2 separate regions of the Homo sapiens genome follow, and region 2 is linked to region 1. The links come from fine-mapping of genetic effects on gene expression. A gene starts in region 1. The other region holds a variant in brackets. All regions are shown on one strand. Distances are between the middles of the regions. Region 1 holds the start of ZGRF1 (zinc finger GRF-type containing 1). Region 2 overlaps ZGRF1 (zinc finger GRF-type containing 1).

Region 1 (5,388 bases):
GCTATAATTATCAATTATTCTATAATTGATAATTATAATTCTATAATTGATAATCTATAATTATAAATTATTGATAATTATCCAATTATCAATAATTCTATCCAATTATTCTATCCAATCTCTTGTTAAATCCTATCAGTTTGACTTTTGAAATGGCTCTCATCTCCATCCAGTGTTTTCTACAACTACTGCTACAACTGTCACTAGAATATGCCAATAGTTTATAAACTGTTCTGTAAGTCACCCATTCTCAACAGGAGCCTATGTATAACCCATCTAAAACACAGACCTGGTTTTGTGATGCTTCTGTCAAAACTTGCAACATTAGAAATTCCTTAGCACCTTCCCGTAACATAATATGCAGTTTATGAAAACACTGTTTTAAAAAAAAAAAGTAACACTTGGCCAGGCGCGGTGGCTCACGCTTGTAATCCCAGCACTTTGGGAGGCCAAGGCGGGCGGATCACGAGGTCAGGAGATGGAGACCATCCTGGCTAACAAGGTGAGACCACGTCTCTACTAAAAATACAAAAAAAGAAAAAAGAAAAGAAAAAAATTAGCCGGGCATGGTGGCAGGCGCCTGTAGTCTCAGCTACTTGGGAGGCTGAGGCAGGAGAAAGGTGTGAATCCGGGAGGCGGAGCTTGCAGCGAGCCGAGATCGTGCCACTGCACTCCAACCTGGGCGGCAGGGCAAGACTCCGTCTCAAAAAAAAAAAAAAAAAAAGTAACATTTAACTGGCTTTAAATGAAGAATAAAAGTTATTGGGTAACAATACCAGTAACTTTATATACACTTTTGTAAATCCTCACAATCCCACTAGGTAGCAGTTTCTTCCATCTTAACACAAAAACTCAAAAAGGTTTAAGTGACTTGGCCAAAGCTAGCTAAGTAAGTTGTCCCAGGTATGTTTGATCCCACATTGTCTACCTTTTGGTAGAATTTCCCGCAATTTATCACCACGGACTCTATGTTCTGACTCAGGAATTCTTAATCTGAAGTCCATGCAACTTTGGCTGGACAAGAATTCTAGTGGGCTCCATTAAATTGTAAATGATACATTTTAAAGATAAGGTAAAATCAAGACTCTTGTACAAATATAAAATGAATACACGGTAAAGATTTAAGCACAGTCATGGGTTGCTTAACGACAAGGACACATTCTGAGAAATGCACAGTCAGGTGAGTAAGTACATCATTGAGTATGTAGTTATTCTATGATGTATTCACACAAACCTAGGTACTATTGCCTATTACTCACCTATAATCTTATGGGACCACTGTCATACATGCGGTCTGTCGGTATGTGGTGCTTGACTGTAAATAAGGGAACCAGTTAAGTGCTAAAAACCAGTTCAAAGGAGAATTTAAAAAGCAGGTACACAGGCAATCAGGAACGTTGAAATGAATATTAATAAATACTGCTCAGGACAATAATTAATTGCATCTTTACTGGACAAACCTAATTTCCATGTTGCTGTAGCGAGTTACAGGGTTGAAAAATAGTTCAAAGACCACGAAAGACATAGATAACTTGGAAGAGTGAGTCAGACAAGACACCAAGTCATTTGTGTGTGTTTGCTATTTAAAAGTATTTCGTAATTTCTCCTGAGGAAATTATATGAAAAATGTTTGTTTGGAGACGCAGCCTCTCTCAGTGGCCCAGGCTGCAGTGCAGTGGCGCGATCCCGGCTCACTGTAATCTCTGCTTCCCGAGTTCAAGCGATTCTCCCAACCAAGCCTCTTGAGTAGCTGGGACTACAGGTGTGCACCACCACTCCCCGCTAATTTTTGTGTTTTTAGTAGAGACGAGATTTTGCCATATTGGCCAGGCTGGTCTCGAACTCCTGACCTCAAGTGATCCTCCCGCGTCGGCCTCCCAAAGTGCTGGGATTACAGGCGTGAGCCACCGTGCCCAGCCTCGCAAAATGTTTTAATAGGTACATGCACGTTTTCCTGAGAAGCTAATCCATATAATTAAGTTTTCAAAAGAAGTGTGCCACAACAGGTTAAGAATCATTGTTCTGGTCACTGCTTACAACTCAAGTCCCTCAACACGTAGTGGCCTGTGTGTTCTGCTTTGTCTGAATCTTCTCGTCTAAATTTCCTTATTAAATTTTCAAGGCCCAGGTTAAATGGCATCTTACTCTTTGAGATCTTCCACCACCCTGTGTCCTATCATTTGTTTTCTCTTAAGTTTCTTTGCAAACGCACTCTGCACACCATATCTAGCAAGTGTTAGTTCCCTTCCGTAACTGGATTTTTTACTCTTTGAGGACGATGGCAGAGTCCTGCAAAAGAAGATGATAATTTTAGAATATAAATCCTCACGTTCGCTATCTTCTGGCAGCCACAGCTCAGCTCCAATCTGCGAAATACGGCACTCTCTTTATTGACTACTGCTTCTCTCGGCACCCGTACTTCCGCAAGGACGCCGTCATAGGCCGGGCGCGCCCCAAACCTCCCCACGCCGGGCCCCTATGCGCCCTTACTGTCTGAAAACGGGAACTACAAGTGCTGCCGAAGACTTTTGCGCGTGCGCATAGATAACTAGGCCAAGGAACTGATGGGTGTGCAGGACGGGGGGGCGGGGTAAGAAGGACGATAGATGATAGAGTGGACCGCAAGAAAAAGGACGGAGAGTTAATTAGACTTCGCCCAAGCTGTGCGACCCTATAGGCCGCTTGTAACTTACTCCGTTCGACTCCCAAAATACAGGGTCAAGTACTGCGGCCTTCGGACATTTCCGTCTCCGGATCCTGATAGTCTCGGTTACTTTCGCGTCATAGGATGAGCGACAACGTTTTCCGGTCCCAATTGAGAAAGACGGGCCCGGAGGCAGTGCGCGCTCCACCTACGTCACAGGCGAGGTGGTTCCAGGAGGGCTGGGCATCGGAGAGCGCGGCCGGCTGAGAGACTCGAAGCCAAGGAAGAATTTGATTGGCGATTTGAAAGCGGCGGTTTTTGGCTTAGGCGGAGGTGGGCGGGCCAAGTTTTGGGTCCTCATCTGGTGAGGTCCCGCGTTAATGACGTCACGTTGTTTCGCGGGAGAAATTCGAAAGTGGATTTTGTGCAATTTGACAGGTGAGGTGAAGTGTTTCTCGGGATTTCCTAGGAATGACTTGAGCGATTTGGGGCGAAGGGACGAAAGACTCTGCTCCTTAAGAAGAGAACCGGGAAGGATGCTGTTTGGAACCAGGATTGGGGTGGTCGCAGTCACAGCTACTCGGACTGCTTGTAGTAAGTGGTGCCTCTTCACCGTTTTTCCCAGGCCTTGCTTTGCAATTTCGAGTAGGTATGAGGACCAAAGAGGGCTTTGCTGTTTGTATTTAGGACTGAGAAAGGATCAAGTCTCCATTGTCATTTGGTGACAGGATTATGGTTCTTAGAATCTTGGCAAATGAGATGTGGGTTTCCTTTGTTTATTTGGACTGGATGGTTTGTTAACAATGTTGAGTTCATGATTCCAAAACTTTGTTATCCGAACTATTTAGAGGTTCAGGTTTAGGTTCAAAAAATACTCCTTGTTTAAAAAAAAAGGAAAAATATCTAGTATTTAAATGAATAATGGCTCATACTTTACTGAGAACACCGAGTTTTATGTATATATATTGCGTCCGTACATATAGTAGCACAATGTATATGTATGTATATGTGTGTATGTACGTATATCTGTGTGTATGTATGTATGTATATAATTATCACAGAGCATCTGGGGTCTTTAAAAACTTATTTGGAGATTAATCTTTCACCTATTAGAAGTCGGTCAACAGGTGAATTGTCTGGTAGACGTGGACAGATGAACACTTGGAAAAAACTCTTTGCATCTCACTTAAATATATATGATGCTGTTGTCTAAAATAATTTTTTCTGATTAATACTAAGATAAGAAAGGGTGTTGACTTTCAATGAATAAGTATTAGAGCTCTTCTAAATTTTAAAAGATCCAGTTAGCTTTTTTTTTTTAGGTTTTCTCCTATAATCGAATTTAACCATCCTTTAAGAGTTTCAGTCTTCTTAGTTCTTTTTAAACTGTACATTCCAGAAGTAATATCTCAATTTAGGAAAATAATGGAGAATTTATCTTGCAATTGTGAAATAGCATATAAGTTATCCTAAACTAGTAAATACTGGGTTCCTAATCTGTAAATTGTAATAATGCTTATTCTTCAGGATTATGAGACTGATAAATACTGTATGTAAAGTATCTCGTCCAATTCCTGCCTGATACATAGTATGTAATCAATAAATATATATAATTACACACGATAATCATATAATTGTATATTACATAATACAGTAATATAGTTATATATTATATAATTACATAATAATTATAATGTATATAATTAACAATATAATGTATATAATGTTTATAATATAGCACTTTGGGAGGCTGGAAGGATTGCTTGAGCCCAGGAGTTTGAGGCCACAGCGAGCTATGATTGCAACACTGCACTCCAGCCTAGGTGACAGAGTGAGACCCTGTCTCTGTAAAAGAAAAAGAAAAGTTAAAAAGCCAACAGAAACAAAACCTCCAAATAAAGCATTTAACAGTTTCTAGCATATGGTAGCACTGAATAAATGGTAGCTATTAAACAGATCTGATATTAATAATTGCCACATGCCCAGCACTGTGTCTGTACCATGTATTCTCATCTATGTATACAGCATATCTAGCCCAGGAGTGTTTTTCTCGATCTCTCTTTTATCTTCTTGGCATTCTTAGGCATCAGCAATTTATGTACGCCGGAGGGGAGGGAGATAGGATGTGGAAGTTGTATTTCTTTTTTTTTTTTTTTTTTGAGATGGAGTCTCGCTCTGTCGCCCAGGCTGGAGTGCAGTGGCGTGATCTCTGCTCACTGCAACCTCCGCCTCCCGGGTTCAAGCAATTCTCCTGCCTCAGCCTCCTGAGTAGCTGGGACTACAGGCCTGTGCCACCATGCCCAGCTAATTTTTGTATTTTTAGTAGAGACGGGGTTTCACCATGTTGGTCAGGCTGGTCTCGAGCGCCTGACCTCATGATCCACCCGCCATGGCCTCCCAGAGTGCTGGGATTACAGGCGTGAGTCACCACACCCGGCCAGGAGTTATATTTCTGAAAGGCAGTCCTTCTGTAGGTTTGGTTTCTGTCCTGTGACCTGTGTCACGAAGCAAGTATGCATATCTCATTTGCATACCCCTTACCTATTCTTTCTCCAGATCACCTTGATTAGTCAAGGGAAGATGCCAGTCACTTTCTTGCACTTCACCGCCCCCGCCTCGCCCTTTTATTTTTTTTTTTTGAGACAGTTTTGCTCTTGTCGCCCAGGCTGGAGTGCAGTGGCGTGATCTCGGCTCACTGCAGCCTCTGCCTCCTGGGTTCAAGTGATTCTCCTGCCTCAGCCTCC
Region 2 (5,388 bases), 37 kb after region 1:
AAGCAAACAGGTACATTACACAAAGAAAATACTCACCTGTTTAACATCTAATAGATTTTTTTTCTTCTGATATTTCCCTTCTCTCTTTAAATATGACACTGAGTACCTCTAGTTGCTACCAAAGGCAGATTTCTGGGGATGAAAATAGAGGTCATGAGGTTAGAATGATAAGCATGTATTTGAAACAGTGTTCATCAAAGAGATTTTTTTTTAAATTTCCCTTTTTGTCAAAGCATAATACATATGAGAAGAAATAAAGAAAAAAAAGCATAATACATATATGAAATAAGTAAATCATCACAAAGCATACTCATATAACCTCCACCTTTAACAAATAGAGCATTCTCAGCATCTCAGAAGCTCTCCTTCTGCCCCTTTTCAATCACTACCCTTTTCACTTTTCCCTAAGATATCCACTGTCTTGACTTATAACCATCTATTAGTTTTGCTTTTAAAACTTTATATAAATAGAATCATACACAGTGTATTCTTTGTGTCTGCCCTCTTTTGTTTAATATTGCAATTCTGAAATTCATTTATGTTGTTGCCTGTGGCTATAATTTATTCATTTTAATTGCTGGTGTAGTATTCTGTTGCATAAATATATCCCAATTTATCCATTCTTCAGATGTTTGTGTTATTTGTGTTAAGGGACTATTACAGATACTGCTGCTGTGAACATTCAAGTACCATCATGAACATGTACATATACACACATGCGTGACATACTTATGTTGGTTATATTACCTAGGAGTAGCATCATTGAGTCACTGGATAGGATATATTTACTTTTAGTACATAATGCAAAACTGATTTCCAAAGTGGTTTTTATAATTTACATTTCCATTAGGAGTGTATGAGAGTGCCCATCACTCTACATCTTTACCAACACTTGATGCTGTTTTTGGTTTTCAGTTTTAGCTATTCTGGTGGGTATATATTGGTACTTCAGTTGTAGTTTTAATTTGCATTTTCCTGCCTGATAGTGAGGTTGGGACCTTTTTTGTATGCCTATTGGCCATCTCTTTATCCTCTTTGATGTAGTGCCTGTTCAGCTTTCTTCCTTTTTTTTTTTGAGACAGAGTTTTGCTCTTGTTGCCCAGACTGGAGTGCAATGGCGTGATCTTGGCTCACTGCAACCTCTGCCTCCTGGGTTCAAGCGATTCTCCTGCCTCAGCCTCCCAAGTAGCTGGGATTACAGGCATGTGCCACTGAGCCCAGCTAATTTGTATTTTTAGTAGAGATGGGGTTTCTCCATGTTGGTCAGGCTGGTCTCGAACTCCTGACCTCAGGTGATCTGCCGGCCTCGTCCTCCCAAAGTGCTGGGATTACAGGCGTGAGCCACCATGCCTGGCCTCTTCCTCATTTTTTAATTGACGTGCTTATCTTTTAAAAAATTTTCTGGAATTCTTTATATAATTTGGATACCTACTCATTGTCAGTTGTATGCTTTGCAAATATCTTTCCTGACCCTTACTTACCTTTTCACTCTTAATGGTATCTTTGATGAATCAAAAATTTTTCTTTTTTTGTTGTTTTTTGAGACAGAGTCTTAACTCTGTCACCCAGGCTGGAGTGCAGTGCATGAACATGGCTCACTGCAGCCTCAACTTCTTGGACTCAAGCAATCCTCCTGCCTCAGACTCTCGAGTAGCTGGGACTACATGTGCCCACCACTATGCCCAGCTAATTTTTTTTTTTTTTTTAGACAAGGTCTTGCTCTGTCACCCAGTCTGGAGTGCAGTGGCGTGATCTCAGCTCACTGAAACCTCTGCCTCCTGGGTTCTAGCAATTCTCCTGCCTCAGCCTCCCGAGTAGCTGGGATTACAGACATGCGCCACCATGCCTGGCTAATTTCTTGTATTTTTAGTATGGTTGCATATACATTTAGAACTAGCTTAACAATTTGCTATGTTGGCCAGGTTGTTCTCAAACTCCTAGCCTCAAGTGATCTGCCTGCCTCGGCCTCCCAAAGTGCTGGGATTACAGGCATGAGCCACTACTCCCGGCTGCCCAGCTAATTTTTAAAATTTTTTTGAGATGTTGTTTCACCAGGTTGCTGCTGGTTTTGAACTCCTGGGCTCAAACGATCTTCCTGCCTCAGCCCCCCAAAGTGTTGGGATTATAGGTGTGAACCACCACGCCTGGCCTAGTTTATCATTTTTTTTTTTTTTTTGAGATGGAGTCTTGCTCTGTTGCCCAGGCTGGAGTGCAGTGGCGTGATTTTGCCTCACTGCAACCTCTGCTGTTGGGGTGATCAGACCCAACACCAGGTTGTAGGGGTGATGAAGTCTGGCAGAGTCAAAGGATTGAGAAAAAGACAGTATGAGAAGTAAAACTGGGACCAGGTGGCCATCGCGATCATGGAGGCTGCGAAGGCCCCGATCTCTGGGAGCCCACACTGTTTATTGGTAATCCAACAGAGAAACAGGTGGTGAGAATGTGGAGGTCAAAAGGGCAGGCACATGATCTACAGCTGTGACAGTTTAGCATTTATAAGGAACGTGTTCT[G/C]CTACTTGAGATAATGGGAATAGGAGCCTAGGAGGGCTAGAAGCAAGGAGCCAGCAAGTCTACACACATTCCAGAGGACATTATGTCAGTCATGCAAGCCCTACCTCAGTTTCCCTCCCAACACTCAGCTTGTTCCCAACACTCCGCCTCCTGGGTTCAAGTGATTCTCCTGCGTCAGCCTCCCAAGTAGCTGGGATTACAGGTGCCCACCACCACGCCAGCTAATTTTTGTATTTCTAGTAGAGACGGGGTTTCACCATGTTGGCCAGGCAGGACTCGAACTCCTGACCTCGTGATCCGCTTGCTTCGGCCTCCCAAAGTACTGGGATTACAGGAGTGATCCACCACACCTGGCCCTAGTTTATCATTTTTAATGTAATTTATTTGCTGTTTCCTTTACGATTAGCGCTTTTGTATCTTAAGAAATCTTTCTCTGGATGACAAGGTCACTCACACCTGTAATCCCAGCACTTCAGGAGCCTGAAGCAGGAGGATCACTTAAGGCAAGGAATTCAAGACCAGCCTGGGCAACATAGTGAGACTCGGTCCCTACAAAAAAAATTTAAAAATTAGGTAGGTGTCATGTTGCGTGCCTCTAGTCCCAGCTACCCAGCAGGCTGAGGTAGGAGGATTGCTTGAGCCTGGGAGATTGAGGCTGCCTTGAGCCATGATCATGCCACCACACTGGGTGACAGAGTGAGATCCTGTATCAAAGAAAAAAAAACATTACCTCAAGATCATGAAGATATTCTCTCATATTATCTTGTACAAGCTTTATTAATTTACATTTCACATTTTGATCTACAGTTTACCTGTAATTGATTTTTATGTATTGAGTACATTTTATGTAAAGTTACATGTTTTCTCCATATGAATATTCAGTTGACCCAGCACCATTTATTGAAAAAGCTATCTTTTCTTCATTCCTTTGCCATGAATCAAGGGTCCATATATTAAGGGTCTCTTATTAGTTTCTCTTCTGATTTATTGGTCTGCAATTTCAGAAGTCACAAAGCATGTGTTTTCTTTCTTTCTTCCTTTTTTTTTAAACAGAATCTCACTGTGTCACCCAGGCTGAAGTGCAGTGGCATTATACAGGCTCATTGCAGCTTCAAACTCCTGGGCTCAAGTGATCCTCCCTCCACAGCCTCCCAAGTAGCTGAGACTGTAGGCACACACCACCATGCCTGGCTAATTTTTTTTTTTTTTTTTTAGACACAGGGTCTTGCTATATTGCCAGGCTGGTCTCAAACTCCTGACTCAAGCAGTCCTCTCACCTTGGTCTTCCAAAGTGCTGGGACTGTAGGCGTGAGCCACAGTGGCTGGCCTATGTACTTCCTATGTATCTTTAAATCTTCCCACCTCATTCTTCTCATTTTTTTACATTTGCATATATGTTTAGAACTAGCTTAATGGTTTTCACACATACAAGCTGGGAATTTGGATGAAATTCCATTGTGCATGTCAATTTTGGGCAGAATTAACATTTTTATAATATGTTATTGATAAATTTTCAATATTATAAAAATATTTCCCTCTATTTCAATCTGCTGCAATATCTTCCAGTAATGTTTTACAGTTTTGGTATAGAGGTTCTCTATATATTATTTGTATATTTGATTTGTAGGAGCTCTTCGCTCTTTACATACTAAGAAAATTAACCCTTTGTCATTTTTTTCCACTACATTAGTGCTTTGACTCTGATTTTTTTGTTTTTGAGAAGGAGCCTCACTCTGTTGCCCAAGCTGGAGTGCAGTGGCATGATATTGGCTCACTGCAACCTCTGTCTCCCAGGCTCAAGTGATTCCCCCACCTTAGCCTCCTGAGTAGCTGGGACTACAGGTACACACCACCAAACCTCGCTAATTTTTAAATTTTTTATAGAGATAGGGTTTTACCATGTTGCCCAGGCTGGTCTTGAACTCCTGGGCTCAACCGATACACCTGCCTTGACCCCCCAAAGTGTTGGGATTCTAGGCATCTGACACCGTGACTGGCCTGATTATGATTTTTCTAAAATTAAATGTTTTAATTTATGTAATAAGATTTGTCAGTGTTTTTTGTGATTTCTGGAGCTCAGAACTCTTTTTCACTTAATGTTTTTAATTAATAAAAACATTATTTTATTATTAATTAATAAAAGCACCTTGATGCTTTTAATAACTATTGTGATTTTGCACTGTCTTTAGCAAGAGCTAATGATTACAGTGGCTACAGTAAAATTAGTTGTTTCTGAATCCCTCCTTTATATTCTTCCAGGCACCTATAATATTAAGTTATATTATAACTTTAAGATAAATATATATTCAATGTTTTCGTTATTATAAATGTTTTAATATTTTCACTGCTGAGCCAATTGGTATACTATGATTACATTTTCTTCCCTTTATAACTTTGGGTTTTTCCGGTTTATAATTGTCTCTTTTTAAAATTTGCTTAGTGTTTTTTGAATACTGGGGCAAAGTTTTTCCATACCCTCAAAAAGCTGTATAAAATACTCCTTAATACAGGAATTCACACATACTTTTCATATAATCTGTGTCAGTTCCATTATTTTCCTATGGCATCTTTTCCAGGTTTTTCATCTGCCTGCTTCAGTATGCACTGTATAATTGACAACTTAAGAATGCCCATTGCTGCCTTCCTAGCATGAGTTGCTTACATCTTGAACACCATGTCTCCTTTCTTGTTATGCTGGAGTACATCTTTGAATACCTCCAAAGAAAGGGAGCAAGGGGAGATAAAATTTGGGAGACTTTGCATGTTGAAAATGGTTTTTTTTGCTTTCATACTTGATTGATAGTTTGACTTAGTGTAGAATTTGGATATGATCTGCTTTATTCTTTTTTTTTTTTTTTTCAGTGTGTGTGTGTGTGG

Evidence for each region. PIP is the estimated chance that this variant, and not a neighbour inherited with it, causes the effect.
Region 2: its variant is the best candidate, but not a certain one, in a credible set for the expression of ZGRF1 in whole blood (INTERVAL, PIP 0.51).

What each region holds. Positions count from the first base shown.
Region 1 is chr4:112,634,545-112,639,932 of GRCh38, reverse strand. It overlaps ZGRF1 (zinc finger GRF-type containing 1), which reads left to right and starts at 3,024. Exons shown (of 28, transcript NM_018392.5): 1 at 3,024-3,082. LARP7 (La ribonucleoprotein 7, transcriptional regulator) reads right to left here and starts at 2,790. Exons shown (of 13, transcript NM_016648.4): 1 at 2,694-2,790. RefSeq lists enhancers at 2,238-2,347, 2,388-2,437, 3,008-3,227.
Region 2 is chr4:112,597,891-112,603,278 of GRCh38, reverse strand. The region is part of intron 10 of ZGRF1 (zinc finger GRF-type containing 1); the gene reads left to right. Among named protein-coding and RNA genes, the nearest start is that of ZGRF1, 36 kb to the left of the region's middle. The variant G/C (reference allele first, on the strand shown) is at 2,512.